3 linked regions of the Homo sapiens genome follow. The protein of the gene in region 2 purifies or fractionates together with the protein of the main gene of each other region. This does not show direct contact. Each region holds a gene or a part of one and is shown on either strand. Other genes may lie near its edges.

Region 1 (7,662 bases), on a different chromosome or scaffold from region 2:
TCCTGTCCAGAAACAACGCCTCTGTAAACCTGAGAAAGGGCTTGTCATTCCCAGTTCTCACCCTTCCTTTGTGCCTCAGTTTCCCCATCCGCAAGACAAGGGGACACCTGCCACCTCTCAGGGCAGTTCTGAGGAGGAAATGAGAAAACACAGGGCCAGGCACACTGGTACTGGTGGCGGAGCATTAGCGGCCCCCACCACGGGGGACTTTCCGCCCGCTTGGGTTAGTTCTCCTCTGTTGCAGCTGTTTGGAGAATGTGGGTTTGAGGTTCCAACCTCATCACCCCTAACGGTTCACGAAGCTGTGGGGAGAGAGGGTAGACTCATCCAGCTCCTCCTGTGCACCTTGGGCTCCTGGCCCCGTTATCAATGTGACACCACTGAATTCCCAGTGATGCAGCAGGCAAGACTCGTCCCCATTTCACAGATGAGAAAACTGAGGCTCAGGGGAAGGAAATAATGAGGTCATCTCACACAGCCAGGGAGGGTCTTTGTCAGGATCCGAACCTGGGGCGTTCAGACCCCTAATGCCCTTCCCCAGCAGGGCCGGAGTCTGGGCTCCCAGGGCCAGATGGGGCCAAGAGAAAAAGTCCTGGGACCTGGCAGCCTCTCTGCACCCTGCTGATATCTGGGAGTTGAAGCCAGCACTGTTGCCGGAAACCCCGGCAGTTCACACTCTCTAGAATTCATCCGACAGGGGCAATTACCCACTTCCAATAATCAATGGGGCAGTGGAACCAGGACAGATGTGCAGAGGGAACCCATTAGCAATCTAAGCGTTCTGGCCCCGCGAGACGTCAGGGAGCGTGTTGGGTGGACGCTCAGGGACAAAGGCACCATCTGCCTGATTTCTCTCGCTGTCTTGGGTCTTCAGCATAAGTCAGGGCTTCTTTTTTTAAAAAAAAAAAAAAAAAAAAAAGAGAAGGCCTTGCTCTGTTGCCCAGGCTGGAGTGGAGTGATGCAATCATAGCTCACTGCAGCCTCAAACTCTTAGGCTCAAGCAATCCTCCCACCTCAGCCTCCCCAGTAGCTGGGACCGTACGTGTGCACCCCAACCCTCGGCTGATTTTTTTTTGTTTTTTGTAGAGATGAGGTCTCACTGTGTTGCCCAGTCTGATCTTGAACTCCTAGGCTCAAGCAATCCTCCCGCTTTAACCTCCCAAAGTGTTGGGATTATGGACGTGAGCCACCATGCCTGGCAAAATCAGGGTTTCTAAACCTCAGCACAGTGTACATGAGGGTGGGGTCATTATCTGGGATGGGGTCATCCTGGCCATTACACAGAGTTGAGCAGCATCTCTGGCTTCCACCTACTCCATACCAGCAGCACCCCCCTGGACATGACACCCAAAAATGTCCCCAGACGTTGCCAAGTGTGCCCAGGGGAGCAAAAGTGACCCCGGCTGAGAACCACAGCAGTACACTCAACGAGTAATACTGGTAACCCGGGTGCTCCAGCCCCAAGAGCAAACGACTGCGCTACAGAAAGAACGAGGGATGGAGAAGCAGGTCCTGCCGCCAGTAGATAATTCGCAGCCCTGCCCCGCGGGACAGCCGGCTTCCTTCTACGCAGTATTTAATTTAAGTCAAGTTTATCATTATGACCAATATTAATATAATCAGAGCCAACGTTTATCGAGCGCGGACGCTGGCCCAGGCCCTGTTCTCAGCACTCTCTGTAAGCTATCACACTGGTGCCTCTAAAGAACCGCAGAGGTGGCTGGGAGTCTTAAACCCATTTCACAGGCCTGGAAACTGAGGCCCGCGGACGGCAATGGAGGTGTCAGAAGTCACGCAACTTTTAATTGTTGGGGAAGGGGTCAAAGTCCACGGTGGCCCTGGATTTCTGTACTGTGCCATGTTAAGATGTTTCAACCCAAGGATGTTAAAATAGGGCAATTTTTTTTTTTTTTTAGACAGAGTCTCACTCTATCGCCCAGGCTGGAGTGCAAGTGGCATGATCTCAGCTCACTGCAACCTCCGCCTCCCAGGTTCAAGCGATTCTCCTGTCTCAGCCTCCCAAGTAGCTGCGATTACAGGTATGCACCACCATGCCCAGATTATTTTTGTATTTTTAGTAGAGGCGGGGTTTCACCATGTTGGCCAGGCTGGTCTCAAACTTCTGACCTTAGGTGATCTGCCTGCCTTGGTCTCCCAAAGTGCTGGGATTACAGGCGTGAGCCATCATGCCCAGCCAAAATTGGGCAATTTTACTTAAAATCTAGATTTCTGCTTTTCCTTGGAAAAACCAACAGATCTGGCCCTGGAGCCATTCAGGGCTTCCTTGGAGGTTGAAGAAGCCTTTTTGGCCCATACGACCCGCTGGAGTGGAGACTCCAGCCCTGACAGGCGTTATGGCTTGAGAATCACACACCCGCCATGGCTTCCTGCCTCGGTTTCTCCCTTTGGACTGGTGAAAGGGGTCCCTGTCCATCCTCCTGCGCAAGGCCCAGCAGCAGGCAGGCAGGCATGGCTGTGTGGTCTTGGGCAAGTTGCTCTCCCTCTCTGGGCCTTGGCCTGACAGATGTTCCAAGAAGCATTCCCAACATTCCAGGTTTTCTGTTGATCCTGATGTTGGCAGCCCAGCTCTGGGGGCTTTCAGAGAACTCTGACCGCACATCTAAAAAATGCAATTTGTTAGACGCGGTGGCTCACGCCTGTAATCCCGGCACTTTGGGAGGCCAAGGCAGGCGGATCACTTGATGTCAGGAGTTTGAGACCAGCCTGGCCAATGGGGTAAAACCCCATCTCTACCAAAAATACAGAAATTAGCCAGATGTGGTGGCGGGTGCCTGTAATCCCAGCTACTCGGGAGGCTGAGGCAGGAGAACCACTTGAACCCGGGAGGCGGAGATTGCAGTGAGCTGAGATCACGCCGTTGCACTCCAGCCTGGCGACAGAGCAAGACTGTCTCAAATAAATAAAATAAAATAAAAAATAAATAAAAAATGCCAATTCGCCAGGTGTGGTGGCTCACACCTGGAATCCCAGCATTTTCCGAGGCCAAGGCAGGCAGATAGCTTGAACCCAGGAGTTTGAGACCAGCCTGAGCAATATGGTGAAACCCATCTCTACAAAAAAAAAATAAATAAATAATAATAATAATAATAATAATAATACAAAAGTCAGCTGGGCGTGCTGGTGGATGCCTATAGTCCCCAGCTACTTGGGAGGCTGAGGTGGGAGGATTGCTTGAGCCCAGGAGTTAAGACACTGCAGTGAGCCATTATGGCATCACTGCACTCCAGCCTGAGCAACAGTGTGAGTCCTGTCACACACACACACACACACACACAATGCGATTCGAACTCCTTGGGGTGGGGGGTCCTGTGTGGTCTTCCCCAGCTAAAGTCAACTCTTCTCTTCTTGTTTCCGCCCCCCTCACCTCCAGCCACAAAGCAGCAGGTGCCACTCTCAGTCTCTGTCCTTGGTGCCCCCCACACCAGTTCATCTGTCTCCACTTATGATAGAGGCAATGTCAAAGCACCCATTTTACAGATCAGGAAACTGAGGCACAGAACAGCTTTATTACTAGCCCAAGCCCCACAGCTGCTTAGATTCTGGCTTCCAAGTTCCTTAGCAGCAGGTTTCCAGCAATCCTGATGGAATGAATGAATTAATGAACTGGTGAATATTCGAATGAATGCATGCATGCTCGCTCGCACACCATGCTTGTCAACCGATCACTTTCCTGAGTGCCCATCAAATGACTGCTGTTAAACCCCCAAATCCCCCCCAAACTCCCCCCTTTGGTGATCACTCGGGCCCACCAGGGGCTCTGGAAGTTGGGAGCCACATGTGGAGTCCCTGGAGTGCCTGGAGCTCCCAAGGCAGCCACGTGTCCTCCCTGTCCACCATCCAGGCCCCCTGTGGTTCAGCTCCCGCCAGTCGCCCAGTCCTGCCGCAGAAGTGGGGCGGCCTTGATTAAGCAGCCAGTGAAGGGGAACGCCCCAGTTTGCAGTGGCTGAGTCATCCTGACATCTCCCTGGTGCTGGACCCCATCGGGGGGCTGAGGGCGGGGTAGCGGGGCGCGGGTGGACACTGGAGAGCCCCTCTTGGGCAGGTCCTTCAACATATCAGTGTAGCTCCCATGTTGTCAAAAATAATAACAAAAACAGAATAGAGGTGGCAGCTACATTCTAGGTGCCGTTCTGAATCTGTGCTTACACACGTTAACTCATTTCTTCCTCCTAACAATCCCTCAAGGTGGGCACTGTTACTCTTCTCCATAGACAGATGAGGAAGACGGAAGCACAGAGAGGTTGAGCAACTTGCCCCAGGTCACACAGCCAACAAGTCGGCAGAGCCGGGATTTGAACCCCATGCAGCCTCAGTCCAGCATCCTTGCTCTTAACCTCTGAGAAAAGGCAGTCAAGAGCCCTGGGGTGTGTGTGTGCGGGGGGTGTCTCTGTAGCGATTCAGGTGGCCCCCGCAGCAGATGGACTGCTGTCCAAACAAACATCCCTGACAATCGGGCAGAGCTCCTTCCAGGCGTTAGGAATCCAGGTTGTGGCAGCCAACAGCTTGTGGGCTGTGTGAAGTGACCTCAGGCCAGTGAAGGCCCCTCCCTGTGCCTCAGTTTCCCTCTCTGCAAAATAGGGCTCAGATCACAGCAACTCCGCTGACAGGGGACGGCAGGTTGGAGGAGACAAGGATGCTACTGACTTGCTTACTTAGCAGAGGGCCTGGCACGGGGCGCCAACTCTAAATAGTCGGAGCAGCTGTTATTATCCCCCCGACATCCCCTCATTTGCTGATCACGGGGGTTAATTATAAGCGGCATTAAATTATACACACACAGACGCGCCAACCTCGCTTCCCCAGAACCCCTGAATTTCCGCAAACTCTCAATTACCCACGTGACAGCGCGACGATGGGCCATCCTCCCAGCCTCTCTCCCCACAGCCTGCCTCATCCGAGGGTCCCAGGCTTCCAGAGCCATGGCTTCTCCGCCCGCCGGATACCCCTCTGGGTGTCCAGGAGCGGAAGGAAGGATGCATGCGACTGACTGCGGACGCGTTGAGAGCCAGGGGAGGCATGTTTACCCACAGCATCTCATGTCAAGGCTCGCCGCGACGCAGACTGCGACTGTACTGATCTTAGAGATGAGAGAACACAGAGAGGTCAGGCAACCCGCCCTAGTTTGCACAGCTCAAGTGAGGAGGGTGGCTCAAGTCAGGGCTCTGACCTGGAACCCAGAGGGGTAACCTCATTCTGTAAGTGAGGAAGCTCCTGCACGGAGAACTGAAAGGGAAGAGGGGAAGTCATCCAGGAAGGAAGGAAGGCAGGCAGGCAGGTGAGATCTGGGAGAAAAAGGGGAATTTTCAGTTCTCCAGGTAGGGGGAACAGGAGACAGCTGGCCCTTCCTATAAGGGGCTTATGGCAAAGATCAAAAACAACTTAAAAGGAGCAAGGCCACCCAGATAACATAAAGAGTACGAGATGAAATCTGTCCCCATGAAACGGGACATTTGTGATCCAGCCCCAGTTACGGCGATGGGGACCGGAGGAGGGAGTCCCCATGATCCAAAAATCCAGGCTCTGAACCCCCAACCAGGGTGGGATCCGCGGGAATCAGAAGGAAACAGGAAGCCGCACAGAAACCTGGGTTTATTTTCAGATGTGGAATATCCCCTCGGCCTCTGCGGGGCGCAGAGGGTGCCTTGATTCCGGGGAACAGAAGAGGGGATTCCACGGCTAGCCCAGAATAGCACCAGCCCCAAGGTCCAGTCTGGCCAGGCCACGATGTTGGGGGACCGGCAGCTCCATGGAGGAGGAGGAGGAGGAAAAAAAAAAAAGAGAGAGACAAAAATAAAGCGATGTGAAAGTGGAGGGCCTGTCCGTGAATCACTCCTACCCGTTAATTTTCGCCTTTGGAGAAGTGTAAGCCAATTGATTTTTCAAATTCCCCACACACAACCCCCTCCCCAGCGCTTCTCAAATATCAGCCAGAGACAAGACAGAAATGGTACGTCGGGTTTTTTTTTTTCTTCCCTTTTTGGTTGAGAGTCTTTTCTTTCCTTAAAGGAAAAGGGGGGGGGGCGGGGGGGAAACCACACACTCCACACTCTTGAACCTCAGGGTTAGAGAGACCCAGGTGTCACCTGTTTCCTAGACATTTTGGGGCTGCCACTCTCTGCGTGAGACAACAGCCACCCTTTCCCTCGATCACATCCCCTACACTTCACTTCCTCTCTCCGTGTCCCCCTTCCTCAATTCAGAATGTCACCTGGTGATAAGATGACATGCATTTGAGCCTCAATCCCCTTCCAGCATCCCCTCTCCTCTGCCCCGCAAGCCACAAGCTGGCAGCTTTCCGATTCCAGAGCAAGGTAAGGTGTGAAAATGACAAAATTCACAGTTTAAAAAGCCCTTGAAACCTTCAAGCCCCGGATACGTGCCTTGGTCCGTGAATCCATGGTGAATTTTTGGTTTTTTTGTTTTGTTTTGTATCAGCTTGCCACACGAATCCTGCGAGGAACAGCAGTTATGTCTTAATCTCCTCTCCTCCTGTCCCCACCGGAGGCTGAGCCACTCTGCCTGGTGAGCGGTTGGAGGGTGGGGCGGCGGCGGGTGGTGGGGGGGAGGGTCTCTCTTCAAATTCCCCTCCCTGGGCATCTTTTGCCGCAGGGAAGGACGGAGGAAGGGCAACCTGCACAGGCTTTGCCCGAGAAGGGTTCTCATCCTCCTTGCAAATTCTAAGAGGACACCCACCCATTGGAAGGTGAGCCAGGAGCCTACCCTGGATGCAGAGGAGAGCTGGGGAGTGCCCCTTTCTGGGACCCCTGTCTCCTTCCAGAAAGTACGAGACCCTCCCAGAAGGGGGCTACAGCGGTCAGCACTGCGCCCGCCAAACCTAAAGCTCATCTCAAGATCTTCCCGTGGCTCCGACCGACTCTGCAAATGGAGCTTAATGGGTAGCAGGGGGAAGGAATTGCTCTCAGCCGAAAAACATTAAGCTTTGTCAATTATCCCCCAAACCCGCTGGGTTTATAAATATCCCTTTTTATTTTTAGGGTTTTCCCTCCCGCTCGCCCCCATCCCGAACTCTCTCCACGCCCCGCTTCTTCCCCCACGCACACGGCGGCTGCACCGTCACAGAAAGCAGGTGAACGCGGGGCCACGGGGCGCTCGGGTAGAAATGCCACGTCGCACCACCAAGTCACACCGTCCCTGCCCGTCCCTCTCCGGCCATCCCACTAACTATTGTATTGGGGCCATGCAGCCGCTGGAATAATCAGCGAAGCCACAGGTCTCCCCATCTTGGCAAGTGGAGGTGTGCGCTGCCCTCAGACATCTGTGAACCGCTGTTCAACGCCAACCCCGAAGGCAGAAGGGGAAACCAAGTCACCTCCCAGAAAGACGTTTGATGAGCAGAGATAGATTTGCCTCCAGACTGGTACCAGGTCTGGGGAAACCCAGGCAGAGCCCCAGGCTCTATGCGACCCAAAGAAGAAAAAAATGGGTGCACAGTGATGGCTCCAGGTCTCCCCACCCAGATGCTACCACGAAATCCCTGGCATCCACGAAGCTTCCCCCTGTTCCATGGTGGAAATTGGGGGAAAATGGACTTGTGTCTCCAAGCAGGGTCCATGGACACTGGACGATGCCTGAAATCCCCTGGGAGGCAGGGAAAAAAGGCGCACTGAACGCTCAACCGGG
Region 2 (7,761 bases):
CACATTTTTGCTGCCTATGCTGGGATGGCTGAGGTATGGGCTCAGGTGTGAATGTCAATCACAGAGTCTGCCTGTGACCTCCCCAGCATGGAGGACTCTAGGTAGTGGGACTTCTTACAGGGATCAGGACTTAAGGGGCAAGTGTTCCAGTGAACCAGGTGGAAACAACATGGCCTTTTATAATCTAGCCCAGAAGTCACGGCCCACCAGTTAGACTGTATTCTATTGGTCAGCACAGCTGCGGGCCTATCCAGATTCAACAGGATAATCATAAACTCCACTTCTAAATGGGAGGAGCCTCAAAGAATTTCAGGCCAACACAGATGGGGTGTTCACTTATGCTTACACATTTGTTTTGTCATATAGTTGTAAGGGTTTTTTTGTTTGTTTGTTTTGAGACAGAGTCTCACTCTGTTGCCCAGGCTGGAGTGCAGTGGTGTGATCTGGGCTCACTGCAACCTCCGTCCCTGGGGTTCAAGTGATTCTCCTGCCTCAGCCTCCCGAGTAGCTGGGATTACAGATGCCTGCCACCACGCCCAGCTAATTTTTGTATTTTTAGTAGAGACGGGGTTTCACCATCTTGGCCAGGCTGGTCTTGAACTCCTGACCTCATGATCCACCCGCCTCAGCCTCTCAAAGTGCTGGGATTACAGGCGTGAGCCACCATGCCTGGCCGTAAGTTGTTTTTTTTTTTTTTTTTTTTTTTTTTTTGAGATGGAGTCTTGCTCTGTCGCCAGGCTGGAGTGCAGTGGTGCGATCTCAACTCACTGCAAGCTCCCCTTCCCGGGTTCACGCCATTCTCCTGCCTCAGCCTCCTGAGTAGCTGGGACTACAGGCGCCCGCTACCACGCCCGGCTAATTTTTGTATTTTTAGTAGAGATGGGGTTTCACCGTGTTAGCCAGGATGGTCTCGATCTCCTGTCCTCGCGATCCGCCCGCCTCGGCCTCCCAAAGTGTTGGGATTACAGGCGTGAGCCACAGCGCCTGGCCAAGTATTTTTTTAATTTATCATTTGTCTTTAAAAAATTTGTGACATTTTTTAATAGCAAGATTTTTTTTTTCTTTTTTGAGACAGAGTCGTGGTATGTTGCCCAGGCTGGACTTGAACTTCTGGGCTCAAGAGATCCTCCCACCTCAGGCTCTCAAGTAGTTAGGACTACAGGCTCCTAGATCCTGCCACCACGAGCAGACATTCATTTTTATTTTATTTTATATATATTTTTAGACAGGCTCTCACTCTGTCACCTAGGCTGGAGTGCAGTGGTGTGATCACAATTCATTGCAGCCTCCATCTTCTAGGTTGAAGATGATCTTCCACCTCAGCCTCCGAAGTAGCTGAACGGGGACTACAGGTGCAGGCCGCCCTGCTCTACCTTTTTTTTTTTTTTTTTTTTTTTTTTTTGAGACAAAGTCTCTCTCTGTCACCCAGGCCAATTGTGCAGTGGTGAAATCATGGCTCACTGCAGCCTCAACATCCAGGGCTCAAGCGATCCTCCAACATCAGCTTCCCAAATAGCTGGGACTACAGGCACACACCACCACATCTGGCTAATTTTTGTTTGGTTTTTGTTTTTCTTTTTGAGACAGGGTATCACTCAGTTGCCCAGGCTGGAGTTTATTTTTTCTGTAAAGTAGTGATTACACCTATGACCTTATACAGAGTTGTCATGAAGATTGGACTTCTTGGCATCTAGTTCAAAAGATCAAGTTTCAAATCCCAAGTCTTTACCAATTAATATGTATTGTATGTTTAGCGTCTGAGCCTAGAAACTAATTCAGCACCAAGATATTTCCCCAAATTGCCGTAAGAGGTCAGTAGGCAAGATAAGTATCATCTGTTTTACAGTCAAGGGTGGAAGTAAGAAGTTACCTGACTTGCCTGAAGCCACGGAGACATAAGTGAAGCAAAGACTGGACCAAAGTATATGTGTAGTGAATGAACTGAATGTCTGAATTCATGCCAATAAAATGTATAACAATTTTTATTATCAATGATTATATACTTCAAAATCAAGGTATTGTTTGACAACACAAAGATGACATGCAAAAGTACTTTTTGGTGGTCAGTGCCATTAATAGACTTAATAGACTACAATCAGAAAGTTTTTTCTTTTTTTTTTTTTTTTTTTTTTGAGATAGAGTTTTGCTCTGTCACCCAGGCTGGAGTGCAATTGTGCGATCTTGGCTCAGTGCAACCTCTGCCTCTGGGGTTCAAGCGATTCTCCTGCCTCAGCCACCGGAGTAGCTGGGATTATAGGCATGCAACACCACACCTAGCTAATTTTTGTACTTTTAGTAGAGACGGGGTTTCACCAGGTTGCCCAGGCTGGTCTCAAACTCCTGAGATCAAGCAATCTGCCCCCCTTGGCCTCCCAAAGTGCTGGGATTACAGGGGTGAGTAATTTTTGTATTTTTTCGTAGAGGTGGGGTTTTGCCATGTTGCCCAGGCTGGTCTCAAACTCCTGGGCTCAAGTGATACTCCTGCCTCGGCCTTCTAAAGTGCCAGGATTACAGAAGTGAGCCACCAGGCCCTCTGTTTGTTTTCAAAATCAGAGGTAGATGTTGAATTTTATCTCATGCCGTTTTGAGTCTATGGCCACATGATCTTAGAGCTTTTTTTCCCTTCTTCTGTCCTATAATTTTATTAATAGGTGTTCTATTTCTAGAATAAGCTCTAAGATGAACAATGAACATTTTTCTTGTTATTCATGTAGTTTCTCATTCGATCCCTGAAACCTAAGATTATAGTAATCTTATAATGATTGTTTTATCTTCATCTTACAGAGAACACTGACATTTTGTTAATTTACAGAAGCTCACCTAGGTAGCCCATGTAATGGTATATTTTTCCTTTAACATACCGTTTTTTAAATTTTTTATTTATTTTTTTTTTGAGGCAGAGTCTCACTCTGTCGCCTGGGCTGGAGTGCAGTGGTGCAATTTAGTGGCACAATCTCGGCTCATTGCAACCTTCGACTCCCAGGTTCCAGCAATTTTTCTGCCTCAGCCTCCCAAGTAGCTGGGACTACAGGCCGTGCCACCACACCCTGCTAATTTTTGTATTTTTAGTAGAGCCAGGGTTTCACCATGTTGGACAGGCTGGTCTTGAACTCCTGACTTCAGGTGATCCAACCACCTCGGCCTCCCAAAGTGCTAGGGTTACAGGTGTGAGCCACTGCGCCTGGCCTAATATGCGGTTGAATCCGATTTTATTACGTTTTATTCAGTATTTTTGCATTTATATTTATAAATTAGATCGTGCCCTGTTTTTTCAGTTTTATTTTTCTTTTTTGTTGCTCTCTTTGCCAGGTTTTGGTATCAGAATTGTGTTTGCTTCCAAAACGAGTTGAGAAAGAGTTGGTGATTTGCTTTCATTATTCCAAAATTTTAATAAATTATAACACCCAATTCCAATTCCAAGTGCATCTGATTACTCTAATGGATTCCTGTGGCTTCTGGGTCTCTATGATGAAGTCCTCCCTGGCATAGGCTCGTATATGGGAGCTTGTAGGATGTCTGCAAGTATCAGCTCACAGTGCGGCCGCTGATGGCTTGGAGGACCCTCACGGTGCCTTAAAACTTTTGCCTAGACAAGTGTCACGGGAGCCTCTCGCAATACATGCCTCCCTTTTCTTTTTTTGGAGACAGTGTCTCGTACTGTCGCCAGGGCTGGTGTGCAGTGGCGCGATCTCGGCTCGCTGCAACCTCCGCCTCCCGGGTTCCAGCGATTCTCCTACCTCAGCCTCCCGAGTAGCTGGGACTACAGGCACGCGCCACCAAGCCTGGCTAATTTTTTTGTATTTTTAGTAGAGACGGGGTTTCATCATGTTGGCCAGGATGGTCTCCATCTCCTGACCTCGTGATCCGCCTGCCTTGGCCTCCCAAAGCGTTGGGATTACAGGCGTGAGCCACGGCGCCCGGCCTTCCTTTTCCTTTAAGCAGTATTAAAAAAAAAAAAAAAAAGTCCTGAAGGATGGTTTCGGTCTCTTTCAAGGTAGACCATACCCTTGTAACTAAGCTTAAAAAATTAAAATCTAATTTTCCCTCCCTCTCCAAAGCAGCAAGGGAAAATTGGATCCACGGCCACGTAGGAGCCCCTCACGGCACCAAACCCGGTGTCTCCAGGGACGGGCGGAGACCAGCGGGTGGGCTTGGGCAGTACGCGCTTTTCTCTTCCGACTTTGGGCCAAAGCCTTGTCCGGAGATCACAGTGTCTCGCTCGGGGACACGCCCTCTCTAGGCCCAGACTTGGTCCCCACTGGAGTTCCCAGCCCCCCTCCCCGCTGCGGCACGCACATTCCCAATGCCGGGCGGGGCAGGGCGCAGCAGGCCCGCCCTCGGCGCGCGGCCAGGCTGGGCTCCTCCCCTGGAGCTGCGGCCGGGAGGGCGGGCGGCCGGGGAGACGGGGTGGCGGCTGCAGCCCGGGTAGGGCCAGGAGACCCGGTCCACGTTTGCAAACGCAGCCGAACGCCCAGGCCGACCCGTGCCGCCCGAGCGCCGCGCTGCGTCCGCGCCACTCTTCTCGCCGCCCCGATGGCGTTCCGGGGCTGGAGGCCCCCGCCGCCACCGCTGCTCCTGCTGCTGCTCTGGGTGACCGGGCAGGCAGCGCCCGTGGCGGGCCTGGGCTCCGACGCGGAGCTGCAGATCGAGCGGCGCTTCGTGCCCGACGAGTGCCCGCGCACCGTGCGCAGCGGCGACTTCGTGCGCTACCACTACGTGGGGACGTTCCCCGACGGCCAGAAGTTCGACTCCAGGTACCGCGCCCTTGGCGCCCGGCGCGGCCTCAGCGGATGCGCGTCCCTCTCTCCGGACAGGCCTTTCCCTCCTGCCGGACCTCCCCTAGCTCCGCCCCGTGCAGCCGCGCTCCTCCCTTCTTCCGCTGCCCAGATCCTCCCGGACCCCAGACCCTCCGCCGCGGGTGAGCCTCCCGGCCCTCACGTGCCCTAGGCTGCCAGCCGGGGACTGGACCCTTGGAGGACCTTGAGCAGCGGGGTTGGGGCAGACCACGTCCTCCCTTTCCTCCCAGCGCATGGACACACGCAAAATCAGTGTAAAATAATCAGTGTAAGTGGAGGCCACGTTGCACAACTGGACCCCCAAGAGTGGATGTTCGTGCCTGCCTCTCTTCGCCCTTTCCTGTTCCTTCCCTCCGCTCCCTTGGGAATCTAGTCAGATGGTGCTTCTCACACAGAACAATGATGAAGAGGCTAGCAGCCCCAAACATACAATGAGCTGTTAACAATGTGTAGGTGTAGTTCTAAGTACTTTCCATATTGTAGTGAACTCATTTAATTGTACAGCAGTCTTGTGAGGTAGGTACTATCACTACCCTCATTTTATCAGTAAGGTAACAAGCAACTGCGGCTAAGAAACGTGTTTAAACAATGGAGTCAGATTGTTTAATCCAACTCCAGAGTCTGTGTGCGCAACTACCACTGCCCTTCCTTTCCTGCCATACAAAAACCTCTCTTGGGGCTGGGCGTGGTGGCTCACGCCTGTAGTCCCAGCACTTTGAGAGAACGAGGCGGGAGGATCGCTTGAGCCCAGGAGTTTGGGGCTGCTGTGAGCTATGATCGTGCCATTGCACTGCAGCCTGGGAGACAGAGAGAGATCCCATCACAAAACAAAACACAACACGACACCTCTCGTGGGCAGGAGGTAGTCCAGGACCGTCACTCTGCTTTATACCAGGCCCTATATCAAGCCCAGAACTCCTTCTCTCAGCTCTGCCTCAGGATCACAGCACTGCTCTCCCGTTTCCCTCCAGTTTAGGTTCGGGGTTAACAGGCCTCTCTTCGTCCAGCACCAGGCTACTCCTCGCCAAGGCTTTTGTTACAAACCCTGGTCTGTGCCAGCACTTCCCTTCGCGAACACTAGATCAGGCAGAGAGAGCTATTTGTTGAGCCCCTGCTATGTGCCCCAAGGCCTAGGGTCATTACGAATATTTTGTAGACTCTTGACTTTTTTGAAGTTCCAGACAATGAATATACAAAAGCTGTTCAGCATAGTATGTGGCACTAGCAAGCGCTTAGAAATGGTCATTCTTACTACCATTTTAGTTACTTTAAAAAAAAAAAACAACAGGCCGGGCGCGGTGGCTCACGCCTGTAATCCCAGCACTTTGGGAGGCCGAGGCGGGCGGATCACGAGGTCAGGAGATCGAGACCATCCTGGCTAACACGGTGAAACCCGGTCTCTACTAAAAATACAAAAAATTAGCCGGGCGAGGTGGCGGGCGCCTGTAATCCCAACTACGCGGGAGGTTGAGACAGGAGAATGGCGTGAACCTGGGAGGCGGAGCCTGCAGTGAGCCGAGACGTGCCACTGCACTCCAACCTGGGTGACAGGGAGACTCCGTCTCAAAAAACAAAACAAAACAAAAAACAAAAAACGAAACAAAAAAAACAGCTTTATTGAGATATAATGCCATACAATTTGCCCATTTGGTGTGTACAATTCAGTGTTTTTTAGTATATTCACAGAGTAGTGCAAACATCACAACTAGCTATTTCCAGAACATTTTCATCACCCCCAAAAAAGAAACGCTGGACCCATTATCAGTCACTCCCCAACCCCAGTTAGACTGCCCTCCAGTCCCTTTCAGCCACGAATCCACTTTATGTCTCTATGGATTTGCCTCTTCTGGACATTTTGTATAAATGGAATCATATAATTTGAGGTGCTTTGTTATTTATTTATAATTGGCTTCTTTCATGGTTCATTTACGGTGTAAGGTATATCAGTACTTCATTCCTTTTTGTGGCTGTATATGTAATATTCCATTGTGTCCATTCATCAGTTGATGGACATTTGGATTGCTTATACTTTTTGGCTATCATGAATGATGTTATGAACATTCATGTGCAAGGTTTTGTGTGGATGTACCTTTTCCTTTTTTTGGATATATACCTAGGAGTTGGAATTGCTGCGTCCTATGGCACCTATGTTATAAACGTTTTGAAGAATAGCCAACCTGTTTCCCCACAATGGCTGCACCATTTTACATTCCCACCAGCAGTGTATGAAGGTTCATAGTTCTCCACGGTCTCAACAACACTTGTACTTGTCTTTTTTTTTTTTTTTTTTTTTGAGATGGAATTTTGCTCTTGTCACCCAGGCTGGAGTGCAATGGTGCGATCACAGCTCACTGCAACCTCCCTGCCTCCCGGGTTCAAGCAATTCTCTTACCTCAGCCTCCTGAGTAGCTGGGATTACAGGTGCCTGCCACCACGCCTGGCTAATTTTTGTATTTTTAGTAGAGACGAGGTTTCACCATGTTGGCCAGGCTGGTCTTGAACTCCTGACCTCAGGTGATCTGCCCACCTCGGCCTCCCAAAGTGCTGGGATTACAGGCGGGAGCCACCACGCCTGGCCTGTGTCTTTGATTATAACCATTTAGTGGGTGTGAAATGATATCTCATTGTGGTTTCGATCTGCATTTCTCTAATGGCTAACGATGTTGAGCATCATATGCGTATTGACCATTTGTGTATCTTCTTTCATGTGCTTCTTTCATAGGGAAGAATTTCTTGCTTGAGTTGATGGTAATTAATTCCAGTAGAACAAGTTGTCCTACTATCTAGAACATCTCTAGGGCTGGCAGCCACTGTGAGGTAGTGTAGGGCAGTTGAAAGAGCATGGAGGATCTACCATCCATTCATCAAACGTTTTTCAGCGTCTATCCCTCAAGAGAGAGACTAGTCCTAGTCTAGTATGCTTCTTCCCCATCCCTACCACTTACAGCCTAGGCTATTACAACAT
Region 3 (8,091 bases), on a different chromosome or scaffold from region 2:
GCCTGACCAACATGGAGAAATCCCGTCTCTACTGAAAATACAAAATTAGCCAGGCGAGGTGGCGCATGCCTGTAATCCTAGCTACTCGGGAGGCTGAGGCAGGAGACTCGCTTGAACCCTGGAGGCTGAGGTTGCAGTGAGCCAAGATCGCACCACTGCACTCCCAGCTGGGCAACAAGAGCGAGACTCCATCTCAAAACAACAACAGAAAAAACAAAACCAATTTGAGTAATCGGAGTTTTTTTAAACACCACACTGAACGCAAGGTCATAATTCAAATCCTAACAAACTGTTTATTCTAGAAAATCACAAATAATCTGTGTGGCTATATAAAAGTGTCTACTTGTGGGCTGGGCATGGTGGCTCATACCTGTAATCCCAGCACTTTGGGGGCCCAAGGCGGGTGGATCATGAGGTCAAGAGATTGAGACCATCCTGCCCAATATGGTGAAATCCCATCTCTACTAAAAATACAAAAATTAGCTGGGCGTGGTGGTGCGCACCTGTAGTCCCAGCTACTCAGGAGGCTGAGGTGGGAGAATTGCTTGAACCCGGGAGGCGGAGGTTACAGTGGGCCGAGATAGTGCCACTGCACTCCAGCCTGGCAACAGAGAGAGACTCTGTCTCAAAAAAACAAACAAAAAAGTGTTTACTTGTGTGATAGGCCTGATGGTAACATACAAGAAAATTACTACCAAACTGTCTCCGAAGTCAATAATTATAAGCACTCTGCCCCTATGCTGGGATCCTTTTGGAAACTGTTCAAAGAGACTGAATCAAAAAGTGATCTAGCCCAGGCGCAGTGGTTCACACCTGTAATCCCAGCACTTTGGGAAGTCAAGGCAGGCGGATCACCTGAGGTCAGGAGTTCAAGACCAGCCTGGCTAACATGGCGAAATGTTGTCTCTACTTAAAATACAAAAATTAGCCGGGTGTGGTAGTGTATGCCTCTAATCCCAGCTACTCGGGAGGCTGACGCAGGAGAATCACCTGAAACTGGGAGGTAGAGGCTGCAGTGAGCTGAGATCGTGCCACTGCACTCCAGCCTGGACAACAGAACAACACTGTGTCAAAATAAATAAGTAAATAAAAGGGGATTTAATTTTAAAAATTAAATAATATATAAAAATAAAAAGTGATCTGAGAAAGACATATTGTAACATATTGGGCTCATATCCGGCCCAGCAGCACAGTTCTAGAAATTTAAGACAAATTCTGAGGTTGGTATAGAAATACTTACCAGTCAAAAGCACAGCCTAAGGCCTTCACACACCATAAAATCAGTGAAACTAATTGCGGTTCTTCAGCATCTGCGGAGCACTGGCTACCAGTAAGGAGAAAGTTGGGGATGCAGATAATCAGTGCACCCTGAGGTGACAGTTAATTCCACTAGCATACCATTTCACAGGAGATGTTATGGCATTCTACTTCATCCCCCTACTCTGAGAATGCTGAAACTGGCTGGAAATTTCAACAGTTAGCCAAATGTCAAATGTCCTTTGAAGAACTTTAATAAAATCTGGATCCTCCAAAATCCCCTGCGTAGAAAGATCTTGGAACTCCTCTGAGCCAACATACACAGACCCAATCACATGTTATCCACACATTTTCCAAGTAGACAAATATTCTCTGAAACATTTTCTGATAACTTCTTTCACAAAGACAAAAAATATGTTAAGGTGCATTCCACCTAGGTCAGAATAATACACTTTCTGATCTGAAGCACAGAACAGCAAGTGGGATTTCAAAAAAGAGCGTACCCTGACCAACTTTTATGCTCTGTTGAAGGCAGAGGCTGGAAGCTTAAAGACAGGCTTTTAAAAGCCAGCTAAGGTACAGTCTGCATTTCTCAGAAAAGTTGCCTATGGCTAAAACAGAGCACAAAATGAGAGATAAAAAAGCAAAACCACAAACCCCTGTACCGTCTGACCCGGGAGTCCTCACTTAACAGATGAGAAAATTACCAGGGAAAGTAACTTGCCCTGGGCTGCAGTTTATTTGGCGTCAAAGCTGTAAGCAGATTCCTGGTCTCCCAGGTCGGAATTCAGTGTAGCTTCCCCATCCACCTAACTGCCACCCCACGGAAGATGCTGTATAAAACTCTTCACTCTTCACTGAGGCTGTTAACATAAGGGTCCAATTATCATTCAAAGATCAGCCTGTTAGATAATAGCTCGAAAATTCCATCCATTTTACAGCAGTTACCAGAGACATCTAATCTTCGAGGAAAAAAAAGCAAAAAGGAAAAGGGGGAAATCCTAATTTTGACCTGACCCCTAAGGTCAAACTAAAGGATTGAATACAGACCAGCAGACCGTATTGGTATCCGCAACCACAAAAACAGACAATAATCCCACCCACAAGCAGAGGAAGACGGCCGCTCCTCGGCACCGCCCCCCAACTCACTAAATTCCACTCCCATTCCGGCGTCCAGAGGACAGTGCACCTCCCGCCGTAGCCTGAGAGGGATCGGCCCGATTGGCCACGCTCCTTCAAACCACCACTTTCCCCCGAAAAAGGGACGAAAGCCTCAGGTCCCCAAACGAGCGCTCCCTCGCCCAGAGACCCCGGCTTGCACACCCCGCCCTGTTCCCCGCGGCGCGGGAGGAGAGGCCGCCCCACACAGGAAGTGTGTCCTGCGCCGGGACCTTGCGCCCAACCCGCCGGTACCTGCCCTCCGCCCCCAACAGGCGAGAAGCAGCCGCGTCCACATGGCTTCAGGTGTTCACATGGCAGTAAACGGGCCCCTGCTCTCCTGGGCGCCCCAGCGCGGCGCCCTCCCGCCCACATCCCGGCCCAGCCCCGCTGGCCTCGCCTCCAGCCCGTAGCCAAGAGGCGAGCGCGGCCGGTGCCCCCGGGGCTGCCAGGGGCCCCGAAGCAGGCGGCGCTGACTCCCGGACGCCGCCCGCTCACACCCGCCGCCTTTGCACCCAAGGCCTCGCGCGACCAGCAGGTAGACCTTCCCTCCGCACCCTCGGGCCAGCACCGGCACCCAAGCCCCGCCGGAACCCCGGGCCGGCCCAAGACACCTTAGCCCTCTGATGCCAGGCCTGGCCCGGGCCCCTGCCCGCACTCTTGGGTCGGGCCGGGCAGCAACACTCCCCTCAGCACCCCAAGCCCTGACTCGGAGTCCAGGAGGCTCCGCACTCCCAGGTTGGGTCCGGCCGGGACCTCTGCTCCCAGCCCCCGAGGCCGGACACCCCGGCCCGGCCCCAGTCCTTCAGGCCCAACCCTCTCCCTGCCCCTCAGGCCCGGGAGGCGGTTACCTGCAGGAGCCCCCCGCCCAGTCCCTCGGCCTCCGCCGGGGGCGGGCGGGGAGGGAGCGGTGGCGACGGCGGGCGGCGCTGCGCGGGGTGGGGGTGGGGGTGGCTCCGCCGCCTCCAGCTCGGGCGCCCGGGCCGGCGGCGGGGCGGGCCGGGGCCGCGGCCCCTCGAGGCTCGCTCCGGCCCGCGCGCTCGCTCCCCGGTCAGGCGCGCCTCAGGGCGGGCTCCCCTGGCGGAGGCCGCGGCCGCCTCGCAGGGGCCGAAAGCGGCTGGGCTCGGGGTTTTTTCTCTCCATTCTCCCAACACACAGGAAATAACAGAGCGTCAGGTGACGGCGCGCGGCCAATGGGGAGGCTCCGGGCCGCGGCGCGCGGGCGGGCGGGAGGGCGCGCGGCGGGGCGGGGCGCGCGGCGGGGGCGGGGCGCTGGGGGCGGGGCCGGGCGCGCGCGTGCCCACCCGCGTGCGGCGGCGTCGAGGCTGGCGCGCGCCGGGTAGGGATCGCGAAGACCCCCACCTCGCGGCAGGGTCGCACGGGGTTCTCCTCTGCGGCCGCTGGGCGCCGCGCGCCACCCGCCCAGTGCCATCTTGGCCTGCGCCTCAGGGCCGTCTTGGGGGTGGACGCGAGCCAACTTTCTGGGGGAGTTGGTGGCCCGGAATCTCTCTGGGATTTCTGGAGTTCCCTGGAGCCTCCAACTCCAGAATCGCGCCTCTTGCGGCCCGGGAGGTCCGCGGGCGAGGACCCGGTCTCCTCTCGGTGACCTGTTTAGTGGGGTCGGGCGTGGGGGCGGCTCCTGCCCGCCAAGAGCCCTCTGGGCCGGGGGCAGCCCAAGACCTAGCTGGTCCCGCCTGGGTCCCTGGCAGCCCCCGCCCATGGGTTCCAGGTGTCCGTGGAGGAACGACTTGGGTCCTCTCAGAGCCTCAGTTTCCACCGCGGAAAACGCGAGGAGGGAGGCCCACCTACCTCACCTGTAAAACGGACGCTCCAGCTGCCTTCTGCTGCGGCATTAAGAAGCTGCAATGCCAGGCTGACTGCGCCCAGGGTCCCGAATTAATTTGCCGATAAGGCGGAGGATTTGCGGTGCCAAGGCCTCAGCTTGTTCCCAGCCTTCCTTTGCAAACCTGATGTTTCTAAAGCAAAGGAAGGGCTTGACTTCTTTATAAAGAAAATCGCAATTGTAGAGCAACTAATATGTAGATGTTGGTGCCCCCACGGCCATCAAAAGTGACAAGGCCAGCAAGAGTAGGATGCGTTGAGAATTTGTGATCCTGCCCCTGACCTTTGACCTGGCCAAATTCTCCTCCCACTTTGGGCCTCAGTTTCCTGTGGGTGAGGAGAGTTTGGATTAGATGTCCCTAATGTTGGCTAAAATTGCCGATTCTAAATTAGGCTCCCATCTGTCCTAGATGTTAGGGGAGTATGTGGCTTCCTCTCCTGAAGCAACCCAACTTAAAAGTTGGGATTGGAAAAGTGCTTCCGGCAGCAGGTGGGGATTGTCAGGAACCAGGTGTGGTCTGGAACCCAGATTTCCATATATTTGAGGTACACAGCTTCCCGGGGCCTGCTTTTACTTTTTGACCTTTCACCCCACCTAGCCATTGCCTTTTCTCAGGCTACCCAAGGAGGGTCTCAGGGTCCCAGGCAGAGCCCCAGGTGGTCCTGGGCCCCTTGGCAGGAGCATGTACTTGGGGAAGGCAGTGATTTCTCCTGGCTTCTGTCCAATCTCACAAAGTGGGGGCTGGCTCCAAAGCAGGTCAGGACTATTCCTGGGGACTTGATTCCCCAACACCTCCTGCATGCCAGGCTCTTCCGGGGCAGAGCTGAACAAGCCACGGGGCCCTGCCCTCTGATTATTCCCATTGTTCTTCTGAGTTTCATTTTCAAATTCTCAGGCCTCAAGACTTTTAAAAGACCAGTACCTGGCTTCTCCTGGGATCAGGGCTGTAAAGGGAAAGCTGGAAGAGGCACTCAGCACAAATCAATGTTTTCTGGACAAAAATAGGAGAATGCAGGGCCTCCTGAAGACTGGTGTTGGGGGCACCCTTAATTTCTTGAGAGAATTCATGAAGAAAGATGAATCCTTTTTCCTTAGAGTCCCCTGCCCCATCATTCTTCCATTCTTTCCCTTCTTCATAACCTCACTTGCGTCTCAGATGCAGGGCCCGGGGGATGCTGACAATCTGTCGCAGAGCCTCATTCAAAAGGGAAAGAATAAAGAATGCAGACAGATAACTGGAGTCCAGGCGCCTGTCAGCTCCTGCCTCTTATAACCATGCAGCCCCCTCCCCGCCCTTTCAGACCCTGCCAGAACATTGCCCCAATGCCCTCCACCTGGAAACTTCCCCAGTCCTTGGACCAGGCCAGCTGGGCCTCTTTATCCCTGAAAGCCTGCCACTTTCTCTTTTGGTTCCATCTGGAAAAAGAACGTGTATGGGCATCATAGCCAACAGGAAGATGTGGGTTACTCTTGGACTGCGTGGCCTTGGACAAGTCACTTCCCCCTTTGGTTTCCTCAGCTATAAAATGGAGATAATATTATCTCACTGGGCCGGGTGTGGTGGCTCACACCTGTAATCCCAGCACTTTGGGAAGCCGAGGTGTGAGGATTGCTTGAGGCCAGGAGTTCAAGACCAACCTGCGCAACACAGTGAGACTCCCCCTCATCTCTATTTATTTAAAAGAAAAAAATTTTTTTTTAATTACCTCACTCATAAGGTGTTGTGGGACTCTCAAGAGAGCTGCATAGGCCAGGCACAGTGGCTTACGCCTGTAATCCCAGCACTTGGGAGGCCAAGGGGGGTGTATCACCTGAGGTCAGGAGTTCAAGACCACCCTGACCAACATGGTGAAACCCTGTCTCTACTAAAAATACAAAAATTAGCTGGGCGTGGTGGCGGGCGCCTGTAATCCCAGCTACTTGGGAGGCTGAGGCAGGAGAATCGCCTGAACCCTGGAGGCAAAGGTTGCAGTTAGCTGAGATTGTGCTGTTGCACTCCAGCCTGGGCGACAAGAGCAAAACTCCGTCTCAAAAAAAAAAAAAAAAAAAAAAAAAAAATTCAGTGCAGTACCAGGCACTGTTAACACTAGCTGCATGTTCTATGACATGGACACAAAAGGACATGAGTAGACTGAGGCTCAAACAGGTTAAGTTGCTGCCCAAGATTGCACAGTGGCAGGCACTCAATAACTGAGCGCCCCTTCCTCTGAAATCACATTAGTGTTTTCTGTTGTTCTCTCACTGTCTCAAATGCATGGATCCTGTTTTTCCTACCACACTCGGAGCTCTTTAAGGAAAGAACAGTAAAAAAAAAAACAAACAAAAAAACAAAAACAGTAGACTAGTTTTTTTCCCCCTCCCTCCTAACCCAGTCCACTCAAAAATTACTTATTGAACTGAATCAGTGTATCAATTCTAGAAACAAAATTAATCCTTTCCCTCCTCCTCTGGCTCAAAGACGGCTTTTGGAAACACTGTATCACTCCTTTTATTACAAACTCCTCTGCCCTCCTCCAGGCGCCTGGGCCACTCCAGGATTACAAATGGAGCCTTCTGCCTCTAGGTCACTGATTCTACTACCATCTGTCAGCGTGGATTGATTGAGGAGACTGGCCCTGCTCGGCAGATCAGTGACTTGTGCGAAGTGAGCCAGGGTGTCGGTGCCTTCAGAGCAGGCGGATGTCCTTCCTCACTTGCCAGCTCTCGTGAGCAGACACACAGCCCTCACCTTTATCCTTCACCAAGCTCCAGCTCTCCTTCCTCTTGGGAGGCGCCGCCTGCTAACTCAGTCACACCAAGAGGGAGGCCTGGAATTCCTGCTCACAAGCTCGGGGCTTCATCTGCAGTCTGCCAGGAGGCAACTTACAAAAGCCTCTGGCTAACAGAGCGGGAAACTCCCCACAGCCTCCTGCTGTGCCTGTCCCCAAGCCACGCACTGTCCCCTTGCAAAGCACAAGGATACTGAGAGTGCACAAACAGCAGGGGTGGAGAGCCTCTGTGGGCACGCCCTCATTCTGTGCCCTCATTCCACAGGAGCCCCTGCTTTGTGCAAGTCTCTGAGCCCGCATGGAGGGAGCATGGGGGCTCAGAACAGTTCTTTCTGGGGCAAGGTCAGGGGAGGCTCTAAAGTTATGGTGGTGGGGAGGGCCTTAAAACAGAGGACCAGAGAATACCAAGACTTAGGGGTGTGGGGGAGAGCCACCTGCTGTGCCCAGGAGGACTGTGCCCAGTGCAGGGGAAAAAGATGAAGCTGCGGAGTTGGGCAAGGGTGGGATCCTGCAGGGCCTTAGAGCATTGACATGTTTGGCATGGATTTGTTTCACAGGGTCCCACAGAAACTTCTGCTCTCCAGGTTTGCCCCTCCACTCTGCCCTCCAGGATAGAAGTGTGGCATCCTAATCTGGGATGCATCCATCTCTCCCCCTGGACTGTGAGCATATGCAGGGCAGAGACACCTCTGCTTCTCTTGGGTCTCCGGCATCCTGTGCAGGGTAGGGCACCATGTCCATTAAAATGATGTTAATGAGGATGATACAGCCCAGAGGAATCCAGGCTTACTATGAACCAGGCACTATGCAGATTTCCCTTTATCATCCCAGTTCTTCTTATTTGCAGCAGTCTAATGAGTTTGGTACTGTTATCACCCCTATTTTACAGATGGGGCCACTGAGGTGCAAAGAGTTTAACTTATCCCAAGTCACACAGTTTGGAAGAGGCTGAGCTGGTATTTGAACCCAGGTTTTCAGAGGCTGCACTCTTAACCACCAAGCTTCCCAGCACTCAGCAAACACTGGAAAGACAGAGATGGACCTAGACAGTCAGTAGGACCAAAA

Evidence for each region. The genes of interacting proteins can lie anywhere in the genome.
Region 1: the proteins of FKBP9 (region 2) and PTPRS purify together in Homo sapiens (affinity purification with mass spectrometry; 2 studies listed by BioGRID and IntAct, with this or other methods). This does not show direct contact.
Region 3: the proteins of FKBP9 (region 2) and TCF20 purify together in Homo sapiens (co-immunoprecipitation; 3 studies listed by BioGRID and IntAct, with this or other methods). This does not show direct contact.

The regions. Positions count from the first base shown.
Region 1 is NC_000019.10:5,330,232-5,337,893, forward strand, and holds part of PTPRS (receptor-type tyrosine-protein phosphatase S isoform 1 precursor), read right to left. Parts: exon of another isoform or gene 7,226-7,662; intron 7,109-7,225; exon of another isoform or gene 7,017-7,108; intron 6,725-7,016; exon of another isoform or gene 6,631-6,724; intron 6,544-6,630; exon of another isoform or gene 6,457-6,543; intron 6,333-6,456; exon of another isoform or gene 6,264-6,332; intron 1-6,263. UniProt on the Homo sapiens protein: Cell surface receptor that binds to glycosaminoglycans, including chondroitin sulfate proteoglycans and heparan sulfate proteoglycan.
Region 2 is NC_000007.14:32,953,041-32,960,801, forward strand, and holds the start of FKBP9 (peptidyl-prolyl cis-trans isomerase FKBP9 isoform 1 precursor), read left to right. Parts: upstream 1-4,399; 5' UTR 4,400-4,533; coding exon 4,534-4,754; intron 4,755-7,761. UniProt on the Homo sapiens protein: PPIases accelerate the folding of proteins during protein synthesis.
Region 3 is NC_000022.11:42,267,073-42,275,163, forward strand, and holds the start of TCF20 (transcription factor 20), read right to left. Parts: upstream 3,582-8,091; 5' UTR 3,267-3,581; exon of another isoform or gene 1,241-3,266; intron 1-1,240. UniProt on the Homo sapiens protein: Transcriptional activator that binds to the regulatory region of MMP3 and thereby controls stromelysin expression. It stimulates the activity of various transcriptional activators such as JUN, SP1, PAX6 and ETS1, suggesting a function as a coactivator.